2 separate regions of the Homo sapiens genome follow, and region 2 is linked to region 1. A link means that fine-mapping ties the variant in region 1 to the expression of a gene that starts in the linked region. Tissue or cell type: putamen. Region 1 holds a variant in brackets; the other region holds the start of a gene. All regions are shown on one strand. Distances are between the middles of the regions.

Evidence for each region. PIP is the estimated chance that this variant, and not a neighbour inherited with it, causes the effect.
Region 2: it holds the start of SPAG9, and the variant in region 1 is fine-mapped to the expression of SPAG9 in putamen (GTEx, PIP 0.95).

The regions. Positions count from the first base shown.
Region 1 is chr17:51,333,501-51,341,760 of GRCh38, reverse strand. It overlaps LINC02071 (long intergenic non-protein coding RNA 2071), which reads left to right and starts at 6,599. Exons shown (of 6, transcript NR_110751.1): 1 at 6,599-7,415; 2 at 7,643-8,049. LINC02072 (long intergenic non-protein coding RNA 2072) reads right to left here and starts at 5,046. Exons shown (of 3, transcript NR_122104.1): 1 at 3,841-5,046; 2 at 2,037-2,154; 3 at 1-510. The variant A/C (reference allele first, on the strand shown) is at 4,225.
Region 2 is chr17:51,117,026-51,125,025 of GRCh38, reverse strand. SPAG9 (sperm associated antigen 9) reads left to right here and starts at 4,158. Exons shown (of 30, transcript NM_001130528.3): 1 at 4,158-4,672. The coding sequence starts at 4,370. RefSeq lists enhancers at 2,807-3,066, 3,676-3,905, 3,422-4,236, 4,526-4,645 and silencers at 4,046-4,425, 4,676-4,755, 4,776-4,905.

The sequences.
Region 1 (8,260 bases):
CAGCACCTCTCAAAAAGCCCATAGTCATGGGGAAATAGCTAGGTAAACAGGCAAGTGTTCTATGAAAAGGTATGTACCTTTAGATAAGGCAGGTGCTTGCATAAGATAAAAAGGCAACAGTGAGGAGGAAGATTTAGCCAGAAGGAGCCCACCCAGGAGGCTCACAGAAGAGGTGAAGCTTGAGGAAGGCATAGAACAAATGCAGTCAACCTGAGATCTTCTGGGGTCATGAGCAGGACAGAGATGTGGAGGAGAGGAGGCCTTTCTTGAATCAAAGAAAGCCATATTGGAAAATAGAAAGAATTTTCCGCTTCTGCCCTTCTTGTAGTGTTTTCCTGCCAGGTCACAGAATTTTTCATCACAGTGGAATCAAACATTCTTGGATTGGAAAGTGAGACAGCTCACTCATGCATGTTCTTTTAAAAGCATGTGACAATAAAACCAGTGACCTGGTTAACATCCTACATGGGTTGTCTTCTTTTCTTCTTTCTTCCTTTGCTTCCCTTTTACCTGAAAGGGACAAACATGATGTATACCACCACCATTCATAAATTAGGCAGCCACAAACCCTGAGCTGAGCAACTTTGGGGAAAGTATAAACTTTTTTTTTTTTTTGCAGTAATCACATGCATATGATAATCCAGGGACAAAGAAATTAGCAAACTCTTCCAGTTACACTCAAAACTCCAACCCTGGCATTTACTTGAAAATATTAAGTACCTTCAAGGCAAATCATTGAAGTGGCTGAGAAGTCTCTACTGCAACATTTAATGATGCTTATAAATCCTAAAACCCTCATGGGACCATTCCTGGCTGGTAATGGAACAGTGTTTGATGTTTCTGAAATTTTGAGTGTTTAATTATGTCTAACAAAGTTGGTTATCAATAAAGTGTGCATCCATGTCTGAACTCAATCCATCTTTTCCTGTCATTTAGGATGACTGGGAATCAGTTTGAATGGGGTTAGTGAGCTTTTTCTGTAAAAGCCCAGTTACTACATATTTTTAAGCATTGCTGTCCACAATGTCTCTGTGAAAACTATTCAACTCTGTCATGGTGGGGCAAAAGCAGCCAGAGGTAATCCATAAGTAAATGAGCAGATCTGTGTTCCAATAAAACTTATTAATGGACACCAAAATTTGAATATCAGTTTTCATGTGTCATGAAATATTATTATTCTTTTGATTTTTTTAACCATTAAAAAATGTTAAAAGGTCAGGTGCGGTGGCTCATGCCTGTGCCCTCATTTAATCTTCACCAAGGGCTTCTGATTATTCATTTTATTTTATTTTATTTTTATTTTTTTGAGAGAGGGTCTGGCTTTGCTGCCCAGGCTAGAGTGCAGTGGTGCAATCTCGGCTCACTGCAGCCAAGAAGGCCAAGGCTGGAGGACCACTTGAGCCTAGGAGTTCAAGACCAGCCTGGACAATAGTTTTTCTATTGATTTAATTTATGCTGTCAGAATTTATTATAACACTGTATATCAACTGTAGAAGTAAACATTTTAAAAAGTTTAATGCAGTAGGACTGCATTGAATGATTGTTATAGATCAGAATAAAGGAAATTTCTAAACTATGATTTAGTAGGTTAAATGTTGCTTTTATATTTATTCAATATTTATTCAAGACATATATTGACCACCTATTACGTGGTAGGCCCCTTACTCCGTACCGAGTATTCAACTTATATTTAATACCAAAGAAAGGAAATAATATTGAGAATATAGGCAAAATTATATCTTTCAAATTAAAGAAGTGCTGTTATCCACGGAATAGTTTCTCCATTTGTTTCAGGGATTCAGCTTATAAACAAAAGCCAGAGTAAGGAAATAATATCTAGAATGTGGAATAAATTACATATTTAAAATAAAGAAATGTAGGCTGGGTGTGGTGGGTCACGCCTGTAATCCCAGCACTTTGGGAGGCTGAGGCAGGCAGATAACTTGAACCCAGGAGTTCAAGACCAGCCTGGGCAACATGGTGAAACCCTGTCTCTCCAGAAAATACAAAAATCAGCTGGGCATGGTGGTGCTCACCTGTTTTCCCAGCTACTTGGGATACTGAGGCAGGAGGATTGCTTGAGCCTGGGAAGCCGAGGTTGCAGTGAGCTGAGACTGTACCACTGCACTTCAGTCTGGGCGACACAGTAAGACGCTGTATTTAAAAAAAAAAAAAAGTTATACTCAATGGATAGTTTGCCATTCAATTTAAAAATAACCTTGTCTCTACAAAAAAAAAAAAAATGTAGCTGAGCATGGTGGTGTGTACTTGTAGTCCCAGCTACTTCGGGGCCTGAGGTTGGAGGATCACTTGAGTCCAGGAAGTGAAGGCTGCAGTGAGCAGAGGTTGTGCCACTGCACTCCAGCCTGAGTGACAGAGCAAGACCGTCTCAAAAAGAGGAAAAAAAAATGTAAAAACCATTCCTAGATCACAGATCACACAGAAACAGGCAGTGTGGTGGATTTAGCCTGCAGTCTGTAGTATGCCGACCCCTGATTTTGAATGTTTGGGCTGCACTGGAAGAGTATGAAGAACATAAACTTAGACTTCCACAATCCTTACACCTGGGCAGCCAAGCAAAATCCTTAAGCTCCCTGGGTCTCCATTTCTTCTCTCTAAAATGAACAATCAGGCCAGACGTGGTAGCTCATGCCTATAATCCCAGCACTTTGGAAAGCTGAGGCAGATGGATCTCTCGAGCTCAGGAGTTGGAGACCAGCCTGGGCAACATGGCAAAACCCCATCTCTACTAAAAATACAAAAAATTCGCCAAGCGTGGTGGCATGTGCCTATGGTCCCAGCTACTCTGGAGGCTGAGATGGGAGGATCGCCTGAGCCCAGGAGGGAGAGGCTGCAGTGAGCCAAGATTGTGCCACTGCACTCCAGCCTAGATGACACAACCAGACCCTGTCTCAAAAAAATTAAAAGAAAAATAATAAAATGGGCTGTATGCAGTGGCTCATGCCTGTAATCCCAGCACTTTGGGAGGCCAAGACGGGCAGATCACCTGAGGTCGGGAGTTTAAGACCAGCTTGGCCAACATGGTGAAACCCCGTCTCTGCTAAAAAAAAAAAATATATATATATATATATATATATATATATTTTAGCTGGCATGGTGGCACACGCCTGTAGTCCCAGCTACTCGGGAGGCTGAGGCAGGAAAATCACTTGAATCTGAGAGGCAGAGGTTGCAGTGAGCCAAGATCACACCACTGCACTCCAGCCTAGGTGACAGCAAGACCCTGTCTCAAATAAATAAATAAATAAATAAAATAATCGGAGGCTCTTGATGAAGACTAAATGAGGTGATATATGTATAGCAGAGAGATGTTCAGGAAGAATCCAGAAGGTTCAAGCTCAGGAGGGATCTGAGTGTTCTGTAAATGCCAGCTCTCTCTCTCCCCTACTTTCTAAGTGTCTTACTACCAGTGTTTTTTGTTTAATCCTCTATCTTTGTATCTAATCTTCCCTTGTAGCAACTGATTAAGTAATGAAGCATGAGAACAGATTTGCTCCTAACAGGAGGAAAACCAGCCCCGTCCCTTGTTGACTTGAGCCCTCCCAGGCTGACACTTTTCCTCTTGGTGTGGGTGGCCTAAGCCCGGTCCTGGAGGGCTGGGTTTTAACTACTATTAAATATCAGGGAGAAACTAATGAAGCCACAATTGATTAATCAAGCTGGATCCCATCTCCCTGTGAAAGTGCCCCATTAGAGATTCAGGGTCTCTTTGAGGGGATTTACAGCGGCTGCAAATATCAGTGGCAATTATATGCATCTCATCTTTCTTATCAAGCAGCCACCTTCTCCTCTCCCTCCCTCAAGTGCCCCAAGGCTTACCAATCACAAGCACCACAGGTCACAGCATCCTCCACCAGACTCGGTGTGTCCCATGGGCTGGGTAGTGGTGAGGGAGCATCTCTCCCCAGCATGAAAGGAAAATCCCAGAAGAAGTAAGGAAGCCAGAGCTTCCTGAGAGCTGGAGAGTGGAATCCAAGTGGGATCTTCAAGATCACCTGAAGCTGATTCTTTCTAACTGTGAAACTATCCAGAAGTTATTTTAAAGAGGTATGCTCTGACCTACTGCTTCTTGAAGAACAGGATCAGAAATCCTCTCATTTCAAATGCTCCATATCTGTATTAGTCAAGGTTCCCCAGGCAGACAGAACCAGTAGGATATATGAAAAGAAAGGTATTAGGGGGCATTGGCCCTTGTGATTACAG[A/C]GGTGGAGAAGTCCCATGATAGGCCATCCACAAGCTGGAGAATCAGAGAAGCCCGTAGCATGCCTCAGTCCAAGTCCAGAAGCCTCAGAATCAGGGAGGCCAACAGCACAGACCTTCGTTGGAGGCTGAAGGCCTGAGGGCCCCGGGAGGCCATTGGTACAAGTCCTAGAATCCAAAAGCCAAAGACCCTGTAGTCTGATGTCCAAGGAGAAAAGGCATCCTGCTCCAGAAAGGTGGGAGAGAGAATCCTCCTTCTTCTGCCTGTTTGTCCCCAGCCTGGCCTTGAGCTGATTGGACAGTGCACACTCACACTGAGAACGGGTCTCCTTCTCAGCCCGCTGGCTCACATGTGAGTCTCCTCTGGAAACACTCTCACAGACACACCCAGGAATGATGGACGCCACCAGCCACTGAGGCATTCCTCAACCCAGTCAAGCTGATACCCTAAAATTAACCATCACAGTCTCAGATCTTAAGAATGCCCAAGGACATCTATTCCGGCTGGCCAGTATGCTAAAGTTGATTGGTGCCATTGGGAAGAGCTGATGAGATGCACTAGAGATGACGCAGCTTTAGAGTTAGGAATCGGTGTCCAGATTTCTGCCTCTTCCTGCCTTCTGATGCTGAACTTGCCTCTCTGATCCTCAGTATCTAAACCTCTAATGCCATGGGAAGATGGAGATCATAGCTCCTAATGTTAACCAAGGAGACAGCATCTGTTGAGCTTTTGGGTTTTCCTATGAGTACTTCTTCCAGGAAAGCCCATCAAACCTTCCTCTACAAAGGTTTATTCCTCCAGTGAGCTCTGCAAGGGCAGAGAGTGCCTCGTGCCCCTCACTATCCCTAGCAGCCAGCTGGGTGCAGGACCCAGCAAGTGCTCAGTAAGCATCTGCAAAGCAATGACAGCATGCCTGGAATCTACTGAGAGAAGAAATCAAATGGCCATTGTTCACAGTTGGCCAGGTCTGCCATAACAAAGTACCACAGGCTGGGTGGCTTAAACAACAGAATTTATTTTCTCACAGATTGGGAGGCTAGAACTCTGAGAGTTGGTTTCTTTGGTGGCCTCTCTCTTTGGCTTGCTGTGTGTCCACATGATCATCTCTCTGCCTGTGTGTTTTCTGTGTCCTAATCTCTTGTAAACACACCAGTCATATTGGTTAGGACCCACCACATGAGCTCATTTTATCTTAATGACATTTTTAGTGGCCCTATCTCCAAATACATTCACATTCCAAGGTACCAGGGATTAGAACATCAATATGAATTTTAGGGGGACACAGTCACTGCCTACATCCCCATCCTTCTGCTTTGCCCTTGTAGCTTCGCTTCCTGGGTTCTCCATGCAAGGCCAAGGGTGGAGACGCCACACCTGGATACAGCCACCTCAGAACCCACCATTCAGAAAGGCCTCTGCAAGTGACTTGGATCCCTGACAATTACTCCCTTGTGCCTCTGACCACGTGTCCTTGTTCCTAGAAGCAAGCATGGGGTAGCTGATAGGACCTCTTGTAGATTCCGCTATGTCCTCTTCTCCATGGGCAAACTCTTTACCTTCTTGAAGGCCTGTGCTCTCACCCTTCACCCCCTCAGCCCCACCTTGGTCCACCACTGCAGGGTCAGACCCTCCTGGACCCAACACCAGCCTGAAGTCCACAGACCCCGGCAGAGACACACCCCTTTGGTGTCAGGCTCCCACTGCCCTGACTACTGGTTTGTCCCTGGCCCCTGAGATTCATCTGCTCTCTTTATCTCCTGTCCGTTCACCTGCACTCCTCTGCACTGGGATAAATTTTGAAGAGCTAACTAGTATGTTTTCCCCACCATCCATTTTTTCCTAGTCAGCCCTCCCTACCACAGCTTCTCTTACATCCATCCCCCGTGCCCGCCACATCTTCATCTGTCCCAGCAGAAGGGGAGGAAGAAAATCTGCTTTCTGCTGATCACACCTTCTTCCCAAATCTTTCTACTTTATAACTGCTTCTGTGGCTCTGGAACTTAATGGGTAATAATTTGCCACCTCTTTTCTCTGTTCTGCCCAATGCTGGTCTCCTCGCTGGTCTCCTCCCTCTTGGGGAGAATCAAAGGGCCTGGATAAACAGGGCGTGTGCAGAAACCGCACTGATGAGTTTCTTACCCACCACCCTCCCTGCCACACACACATCTGAGGGCCTTGGTTTCTGATCCCACCTCACTCCCTTGGCCCCTGTCATGGGCTAAATGTTTGTGTTTCCCAAAAATTCATATATTGAAATCCTAACCCCCAAGGGGATAATGGAGGTGGGGCCTTTGGGAGTAATTAGGTCATAAGGGTGGAGCTGTCATGAATGGGATTAGTGCCTCATAAAAGAGACCCCAGAGAGCTCTCTAGCTCTTTCTGCCATGTGAGGATAAGAAGTCAGCAGTCTGCAACCCAGAAGAGGGCCCTAACCAGAAAGTTGTTGTGGCCCTGATCTGACTTCCAGCCTCCAGAACTATAAGAAGTCAATGTCTGTTGTTTACAAGCCACTCTGTCTTGACTTTTGTTACAGGAGCCCAAATTAACTAAGATAACCCTATCTGAGACTGGGCACAGTGGCTCACGCCTGTAATCCCAGCACTTTGGGAGGCTGAGGAAGGCAGATCTACAAGGTCAGGAGTTTGAGACCAGCCTGGCCAACATGGTGAAACCCCATCTCTACTAAAAATACAAAAATTAGCCAGGCACGGTGGTACACGCCTGTAATCCCAGCTACTCAGGAGGCTGAGTCAGGATAATTGCTTGAACCTGGGAAGCAGAGGCTACAGTGAGCCAAGATTGTGACACTGCACTCCAGCCTGGGCAACAGAGCAAGACTCTGTCTCAAAAAAAAAAAAAAAAAAACCCATCTGGAGAAAACTAAAAAGCTCAGTCTTTCCCCTGGGCCCAGAATGCCCTTCTTCCCCTGCCCTAGGAAAGCCCAGTCACCTCTGAGGAGGCAGCAACATCCTGGCTCCTCCCACTTGCTTTCAGTGCATCCCCACGTCCATTCTCTCATGGAACCCTGTGCACATCTCTATCTGAGCACCCGTAAGACTGTGTTCTGCTAGCTCATGTGTTCATCATCTCCGTGTTGACTGTAAACTTCACTTTGTACCTTGTCCCCCAGAATCCAGCACCGAATCTGGCACACTGAATGAATGAATGAGTGAATCAAAGAATGAGTGGGCAAGTAAGTGAATAAATTAACGAGCTTCCCTGGAGTGATGACATAGAATTGTTTCTTAATTATTTTATAGGTTTCTCCTCTTTCCAGCTTCTATATCACAACAGGATGATTCTAAAGGGCCATCCCAGCTTCAGAGTTCCCTGGGGGCTAGCTGAGGCTTTCACTGGGACTTCATCAGTGCTCAGCTTCTTCATCTGCCCCATCCTGCTTCCAACTCATTCTTTCCACAGGTGTTGATCCGAAGCACATTCCTCGTAAATCTCCTGCATACAAATCTCCATCTCAGAGCTAGCTTCTGGGAACCCTCATGCTACAAGTCATTAGGAACATGGATTTTGGACACTTCTAACAAGCCTGAGTTTTAGTCCTGGCTCTTGTACTTACTTGCACTGTAACCTAGAGAAAAATTACCTAACTTCTCAGAGGCTTCATCTGCAATAGAAATGAATTCATTGAGTCGTGGGAGTTCAATGAAATGTTGTTTGAAGCACATTTAGCACAGCACCCGGTACACTGATAAGTGCTCACTAAAGGATTACTTGTATCATCATCAATATTGCATGGTCCAAGGCACATGGCAAGGCTATGGAACACACAGAAGCCAACTAGATTGGCTACAAGGCCAGCCTCAAGAGAGGTAGGTCCACTCTGGCTTTCAAGAGGTGGTGGTTGGGCCTGTAGTCATATGGTAGTGGTACCTGGAGTGTGCATGCACCATGGGCTGTATGATGGGTTCTTTGGGAGTTGGTGGGATTTCAGAATGAAGTCTATAGTCCAGGTACTCCACCAGTCCTCAAGCAAGTTCCATGCATCATGGGGAACTAGAATTTAATCAGCTGCTAGAGAAA
Region 2 (8,000 bases), 220 kb after region 1:
TTTATTTTTTATTTTTATTTTCAGAAATGCTCTGGCTATGTTGCCCAGGCTTCTCTCAAACTCCTACCCTCAACTGATCCTCCCACCTCAGCCTCCCAAAGTGCTGGGACAGATTTTCTAACAAACCCCTTCATCATACGGATGAATAAGCTGAAGTTTACAGCCCTTATCCTTGTGACTGTCACTAAGTGGGTAATCAGTAACTACTTGCTCTTTTGTTTATGGCCTAAGTTGTTCAAAATGACCAGTCCATACTAGAATACAAGGTTCCTAATTTCAACACCAGTTTCTTTCACCTCAATCATACTGAGTGATGTGCTTTCATTGGGTCTACTATAAAAATCATTATAGCCATAAATTTTATTTATTTATGTATTTATTTGAGATGGAGTCTCGGTCTATCGCCCAGGCTGGAGTGCAATGGCATGATCTCAGCTCACTACAACCTCTGCCTCCCAGTTCAAGCGATTCTCCTGCCTCAGCCTCCCGAGTAGCTGGGATTACAGGTGCACGCCACCATGCCCGGCTAATTTTTGTATTTTTAGTAGAGATGGGGTTTCACCATGTTGGCCAGCTGGTCTCGAACTCCTGACCTCAAGTGATCTGCTCGCCTTGGCCTTCCAAAGTGCTGGGATTACAGGCATGAGCCACCACGCCCCACCAGCCATAACTTTTACTTCATATATTTTTTTAATAGCTTGAGATATAATTCACATACCATATGATTCACTCATTTAATGTGTAAAGTTGAATGTCTTTTAGCATATTTTCAGAGTTGTGTATTCACCATTATAATCAATTTTTAGAACATTTTCATTATCCTAAAAAGAAACCCCATACCTATTAGCAGGCACTCCCATTTCCCCTCATCTCACCCTCTCATGCCCCTGAGACCTAGCCAATCACTAAATTCACATTTCATACGAATGGAATTGTACAATATGTGGTCCTTTGTGACTGACTTCTTTCACTTAGCTTTTTCAAGATTCAGCTGTATCTCTGGGCATGGTGGCTCACGCCTGTAATCCCAGCACTTTGGGAGGCCAAGGTGGGTGGATCACCTGAGGTCAGGAGTTTGAGATCAGCCTGGCTAACGTAGTGAAACCCTGTTTCTACTAAAAATACAAAAAATTAGCCGGGTGTGGTGGCGCACACCTGTAATCCCAGCTACTCGGGAGGCTGAGGCAGGAGAATCGCTTGAACTTGGGAGGCGGAGGTTTCGGTGAGCTGAGGTTGCACCATTGCACTCCAGCTTAGGCAACAAGAGCGAAATTCCATCTCAAAAAAAAAAAAAAGATTCAGCTATGTCATGGCATGTACTTAAAATTTTTGTTTTCTTTTCTATTCTTTTTTTTTTTTTTTGGAGACGGAGTTTTGCTCTTGTTGCCCAGGCTGGAGTGCAATGGCTCGATCTTGGCTCACCACAACCTCCGCCTCCCAGGTTCAAGCGATTCTCCTGCCTCAGCCTCCTGAGTAGCTAAGAATACAGGTGCGGGCCACCACGCCCGGCTAATTTTGTATTTTTAGTAGATACAGGGTTTCTCCATATTGGTCAGGCTGATCTTGAACATCTGACCTCTGACCTCAGGTGATCCGCCCGCCTCGACCTCCCAAAGTGCTGGGAGTACAGGTGTAAGCCACCGTGCCTGGCCAAAAAAAATTTTTTTTTTTTTTTTTGTCAGGGATGAAGGTCTCACTATGTTGCCCAGGCTGGTCTCCAACTCATGGCACAAGCCATCCTCTTGCAAGTGCTGAGATTACAGGCGCGAGCCACCACGCCTACTCCCCTCCCCTCCAACGACTTTCTTTTTATTGCCAAATAATAGTCCATTGTATACCTATGTCACATTTTATCCATTCATCAGCTGATGGTTATTTAGCTGAATTTTATTTTAACTAAATGTTATCTCTGATAACTGGCAGAAGCTTAAAATCAAGACATAAGTGTGTATCTTTCTATGTTGAACGTATACCTAAAGAAGTATACTTATTAGGAATGACAATTAAAATCTCGTACTTGAAAAATCGATACTTTTTTCTTTTTTCTTTTTTTTTTTGAGATGGAGTCTCACTCTGTCGCCCAGGCTGGAGTGCAATGGTGTGATCTCTGCTCACTGCAACCTCCGCCTCCCAGGTTCAAGCTATTCTCCTGCCTCAGCCTCTTGAGTAGCTGGGATTATAGGTGTGCACCACCATGCCCGACTAATTTTTGTACTTTTTAGTAGAAATGGGGTTTCACCATATTGTTCAGGCTGGTCTTGAACTCCTGACCTTGTGATCCACCCGCCTCGGCCTCCCAAAGTGCTGGGTTACAGGCATGAGTCACCACGCCCGGCTGATACTTTTTTCTTTAAATTTTTTGATGTGTATGATAATATTGTGGAAAGAAAAAGTAAAGCCTTGCCCTATGTTTTTTGGCTCTTCTGATCCCCCAGGAAAAGAGAGGCATGCATATAGGTAGACCAGGTGAGTGACAGCCCTCAGGAAGAGAAAATAAAAGAGGAGAGATTCAGATCAAGACTTTTTCTAGTTTTCAAATATGAAAGGTTAAGAAGAGAAAGGGCATTTGCGGCTCACAGCCAACCAGCTGGTCGGCATTCCTACTACCCAAATATCTAAATGACATAAGGGTGAATGTGGGGTGAGGGTGAGAACGGGAAAAAACACAGGCCGCAAATTCAGTCCCATCTGGCACTTCATAAGACTTAGTATTTTCATCTTTGTCCTTCCAAATTTATAGGTTTACTCTTGCCCAACCTTCATATTGTTTTTATGGGTCTCCAGGTGGGTCATGCGTAGGAAACTTTAGGGGACTACTTCATACTTGGTGGGAAGTACTTAAACTTGTAAACCCCAAGCTAAGGGTAGTTATGATCCCGGTGGGTGGCCAATTCTCCCCTTAAACCTATGTTTATCCTGCCTTTCCTCCCCCTTTTCTTAAACGAGTCGGGACGGAGAGCTGAGTCACCTGAGACACAGAGAAGGGACTTTTGAGAGTGTCTTCCGTCCCATTTGCGGACGTTAGATGAGCACACCGGGATCCTTGACTCAGCCCGCTCTAGGCGTGGGCGTTGTGTCATTCCCCACACGTGACACTCTCCCAGGCGGCAGAAACCTCACTTGTCATGGGACTTATTCACTCCAGTGACTCCACCCCTTACCTCCTCTGTTCCCCAACCTCCCACTTACCCTTTCCGCCCCACTTCAAGACTTGAGGAGAGGAGGGTGGCTGGAGCCTGGAAATGTCCCCGTCCCAAGTTGGCCAGAAGTAGCAGACACACTATGTGGGAAAGTGCCACATGTAACGTTCCAGTTTCACCCTTCTCCAGAATGCTATCACCCTTCCTGTTTATTTTTTAATAACTTGAGATATAATTCACACGCCATATGATTCACTCACTTAACGTGTAAAGTTGAATGTCTTTTAGCATATTTAGAGTTGTGTATTCATCACTATAATACATTTTTTAGAACATTTTTATTATCCCAAAACGAAATCCCATACCTATTAGCAGTCACTCCCATTTCCCCTCATCTCACCCTTGCTCTTCCATAGCACAAAACAGTTCTATTCTATTCGAGACCACCTTTCCACTTGGGCAGACCCTGGTTATGGTTTTTTTTCCCTCCCTTTCTGTTTCCAGTTTTTTTCGGAGCCCGGAATTCTCAATCTGGGTAATTGGTTTGAGTCCCGGCTCAGCCCGTTTCCCGTTGTAGCTGCGTGACCTTGAGAGCAACGCCACTTTCCTGGGCCTAGTTTCTTTGTCTGTGAAACGAGGTCCAAATATCTACCTCTTTACGCCTGTTGTGGGGATGAAGTGAGTAGGTGCTTTGTGAGCTTTAAAAAGCCATAGAAATGCCAGCTAAGTTAACTCGTCACTCTTCCCGAACCCCTCCCTTTCCCCTGGGACCCGCCCCGCGAATCCCGCTGTGGATGGATACTTCTCCCCACCCGCCGACCGCAGTCTTTCCCATTGGCGCCCGCACCGTCTTCGCGGCGCCGGGTGTTGACGCCATGGCTTCCTCCGCCAGCGCCCGAAGACGCTTGGCCCCGCCCCCGGCCGCGCCTGGCCTCCCGCGGCGCCCCGCCCATCGGGCCGACGCGGCGCCGGCCCCGCCCCGCGGATGACGTGTGGCGCGCGCGGCCGGGCCGCCCCGGCAGTTGGTGCAGCGGCGGTTGGGGTGAGAGCGCCTACGCCACCCCTCCCCTCCTCCGGCCCCGGCCCCCACCCCGCCGGGCCCAGCCCCAGCCCCGGCCCGGGCTCCAGCCCTAGTACCCGTCCCAGCCCGAGTCGGGTCCGTCCCGTGCGGGCAGGTGCCGCCCCTCTGCCGGCGACGCCCCGGGCCGCCCGCCCGTCCGCTTGCCACCATGGAGCTGGAGGACGGTGTGGTGTATCAGGAGGAGCCCGGCGGCTCCGGGGCCGTGATGTCGGAGCGGGTGTCCGGCCTGGCCGGCTCCATCTACCGCGAGTTCGAGCGGCTTATCGGGCGCTATGACGAGGAGGTGGTCAAAGAGCTGATGCCGCTGGTGGTGGCTGTGCTGGAGAACCTGGACTCGGTGTTCGCGCAGGACCAGGAGCACCAGGTGGAGCTGGAGCTGCTGCGGGACGACAACGAGCAGCTCATCACCCAGTACGAGCGGGAGAAGGCGCTGCGCAAGCACGCTGAGGAGGTGAGGCCGGCGGCAGGGCGGGGGCCGCGGGATCCGTCTCCGGGGGCGGCCGGGGCGGGGTCGCGGCCCGGTCGGGGACTAGAGGCGCGACGGGCCTCCTGGAGGGCGGGCCTGAGGCCGATGCCCCCTGGGACCGATCCCGGCGGCCTCCAGGTACCCCGGGAGCCAGGCCGGCGTTGGAAGCCGAGGCCGGCTACTGAGTGTCCTGGGAAGGGAGCGAGATGGAGGAGGCAGGGCCCGGGGAGGAAGCGGCAGCCTGGCCTGAGGACACCTGGGGTTGGCCAAGGGCGGAGATTGTTGGGTGTCTGGTTGCTTCTTGTTGAGGGAAGTTTCCGACCACCGTGGGATAGTCAGATGGCGGTTCAAAGTTTTACCCTTGGGGAGGGGGACACTTCTGCCCTGGATATGTAACTTCCGCTAGTTCCAGTACCTTTCCAGGGGGTTGCCTTGCTTTGGGAAGTTAGAGATCTCCCTCTTTCGGTCAGTTTCTTCTTGACGTTTTAATCTTGTTGAGAAAGACGTCTTATTTTATGTTCTATGTGCCTTGGTTGACACTTTGTCAACTTTTAGATGTTGTGTGGCAGTACTCAATAAATATATAAACAATTTCGTTGGTATCCCAAACCAAAGCATTCCTCCGTATCAGGTTGTAACCTTGGACAGTTCCCTTCAAAAACCCTCCGTTTATTTATAAAAAGGATTGGGGGGCGGGGTTGGGAAGATGTAGGTGACAGTTGGCAACACTTTTTCCGTCTGAGTTTCCTTCTTAGACTGCTGTTTATACGTGCATTTGGCCACCTGTTAACTCTAGCACCCGAGCAGTGACCTGGGCGCCCTCACCTCGACTCTGTGAACCTTTTGGAGTTCTAGGGTGCAAGTGATAGGTCCTTGGCTTCTTGAGACTGACAAGGAGTTTAGCTTTCAGCCTGCGTTGGCGTTATTTCTGTGGACCTTATCAAAGGCAGGTGATGTGTCCTATTTTTGTTTCTCAAGCACCTAGCACACCTGCTTAAATACATGGTGATCAAAGGAGGCGAAATAACTAATTATTGAAGGAATGACATAGTATTTTTCAAAAAGACTTGAAGAGTTTTTAGGATGTGAGGTTTGTAGCTCATTTCCTGACACTGAATAGTAACACCATTAAATTTTTGTTTTATTTTGTCACGTATACCTTTGCATCTGGTTAAATAGTTCTTTTTCCTTTTTTAAAAGCTTGACTGTAGTGATGATTTTTAGTTCTGATTGTGGGATCCAATTTTCTCAAAGGAATGCTATTGAATTTGCCAAACAAAATTGCCTTTTTTTTTTTTTTTTTTTGAGACGTAGTCTCACTCTGTCGCCCAGGGTGAAGTGCAGTGGAGTGATCTTGGCTCACTGCAACCTCTGCCTGCCGGGTTCAAGCGATTCTTGTGCCTCAGCTTCCTAAGGAGCTAGGACAACACTCCCCGCTCATTTTTGTTTTTTGTAGAGACAGGATTTCTCCATGGTGCCTAGGATGGTCTTGAACTCCTGGCCTCAAGTGATCTGCCCACTTTGGCCTCGGGCTGACCATCCCAGTGCTGGGATTACAGGCATGAGCCACCGCACCCCGCCAGAATGGACTATTTCAAGAGCTTTTCCTTTCATATAGGGAAGGAAGGGATGAAAAACCAAATAATGATAGGATCACAATTTCCGCTTGTTTGTTAGCACTCTTTATAGAACAGAGGTCAAGTGCTACTTGCTGCTTCATGCTCATATAGCCCCTTGCCAGTGTGTGGATATACATGGAAGTGACTGGGAATTAACCACATGTACACACAGGTGACAAGCAAGCCTGACATGACCTTTTACCTCACGTAAAATAAATGCTCCCTCCAGCCTTAAACTCCTGTCAGTCCGTGTAAATATGGGCAAAATGCCAGGGTCACACGTGCCAAGAAAACCATCTGCCACAGGTTGCAGAATCAGAAAACAAAATTGCCCGACTGCTAGACTCTGGGTTCCCTATTAATTTCTTGAGTAAATGACTCTAAAAAAAATAGGTTATCCAATGAATTTATTTGTAGTTTATATTTTTTCAGTTACATCTGTAAATTCTCCATAGTGAAACCATTGGGCAAAGGGTCATGACCTGAGAACAGAGAACATTTATGAAATGCTAAATGAGCCCACTCCCAGGCCACAAACATAAACACACCTTGTTATCAGTTTTCTTTTCTCTTTTTTTTTTTTTTTGAGACAGAGTCTCTCTCTGTCGCCAGGCTGGAGTGCAGTGGCACGATCTCGGCTCACTGCCTCCCGGGTTCAAGCAATTCTTCTGCCTCAGCCGCCCGAGTAGCTGGGACTATAGGCACGTGCCACCCCGCCCAGCTAATATGTATATATATTTTGTATTTTAGTAGAGACGGGGTTTCACCTTGTTGCCCAGGCTGGTCTTGAACTCCTGAGCTCAGGCAATCCACTCGCCTCAGCCTCCCAAAGTACTGGGATTACAGATGTGAGCCACCACACCCGGCCATCAGTTTTCACATAAGATCATAAATTGTGTGTTGCTCAGTATCCAGAAATTGTCTCCCTTTGGCCAATATGTAGAGTGAATTCTGTGTTTAGTTTTCTGTGAGTGCTTTGTTTGCGCCTTTTTTTTTTTTTTTTTTTTTTTTGAGACGGAGTCTTGCTCTGTCACCCAGGCTGGAGTGCAGTGGCACAATCTTGACTCACTGCAGCCTCCGCCTCCCGGGTTCAAGCGATTCTGCCTCAGCCTCTTGAGTAGCTGGGATTACAAGCACGTGCCACCACGCCTGGCTAATTTTTTTGTATTTTTGGTAGAGACGGGGTTTCACCATTTTAGCCAGGATAGTCTCAATCTCCTGACCTCGTGATCTGCCCGCCTCAGCCTCCCAAAGTGCTGGGATTACAGGCATGAGCCACCGTGCCGGCCTGTTTGTGTCTTTAATGCGGAGACCAAGAGTCTTTTATACCAAAGTAAGTGCCTCAGGGTATTTACAGCAAAAGTGATTTGAAAGCATGGAAATTATCCATCACCAGAGAGAGTAAAGTAAATTCTGAGCACCTCTGTGGAAACTTAGGTGGGTATGTAGATAGAATGTTTTAGGAATGTGTGAGGTGCTATGATCTCTTGCTTGCAGGAATTCTCAGCAAGGCATCAAAAATTTAATCTTTATATTGATAGGACATATTTTGAATACCTTCTGACTTTTTCCTTTGCTTTTATTTGAATTTCTAGTGTGGAGCTAGTCTGCTGTTTTAGGGATTCTTTAAAAACAACCTAAAGAAGGGCTAATTTTAGATAGATTTGGACCGGTTTCAGATGCTAATCAAGAAA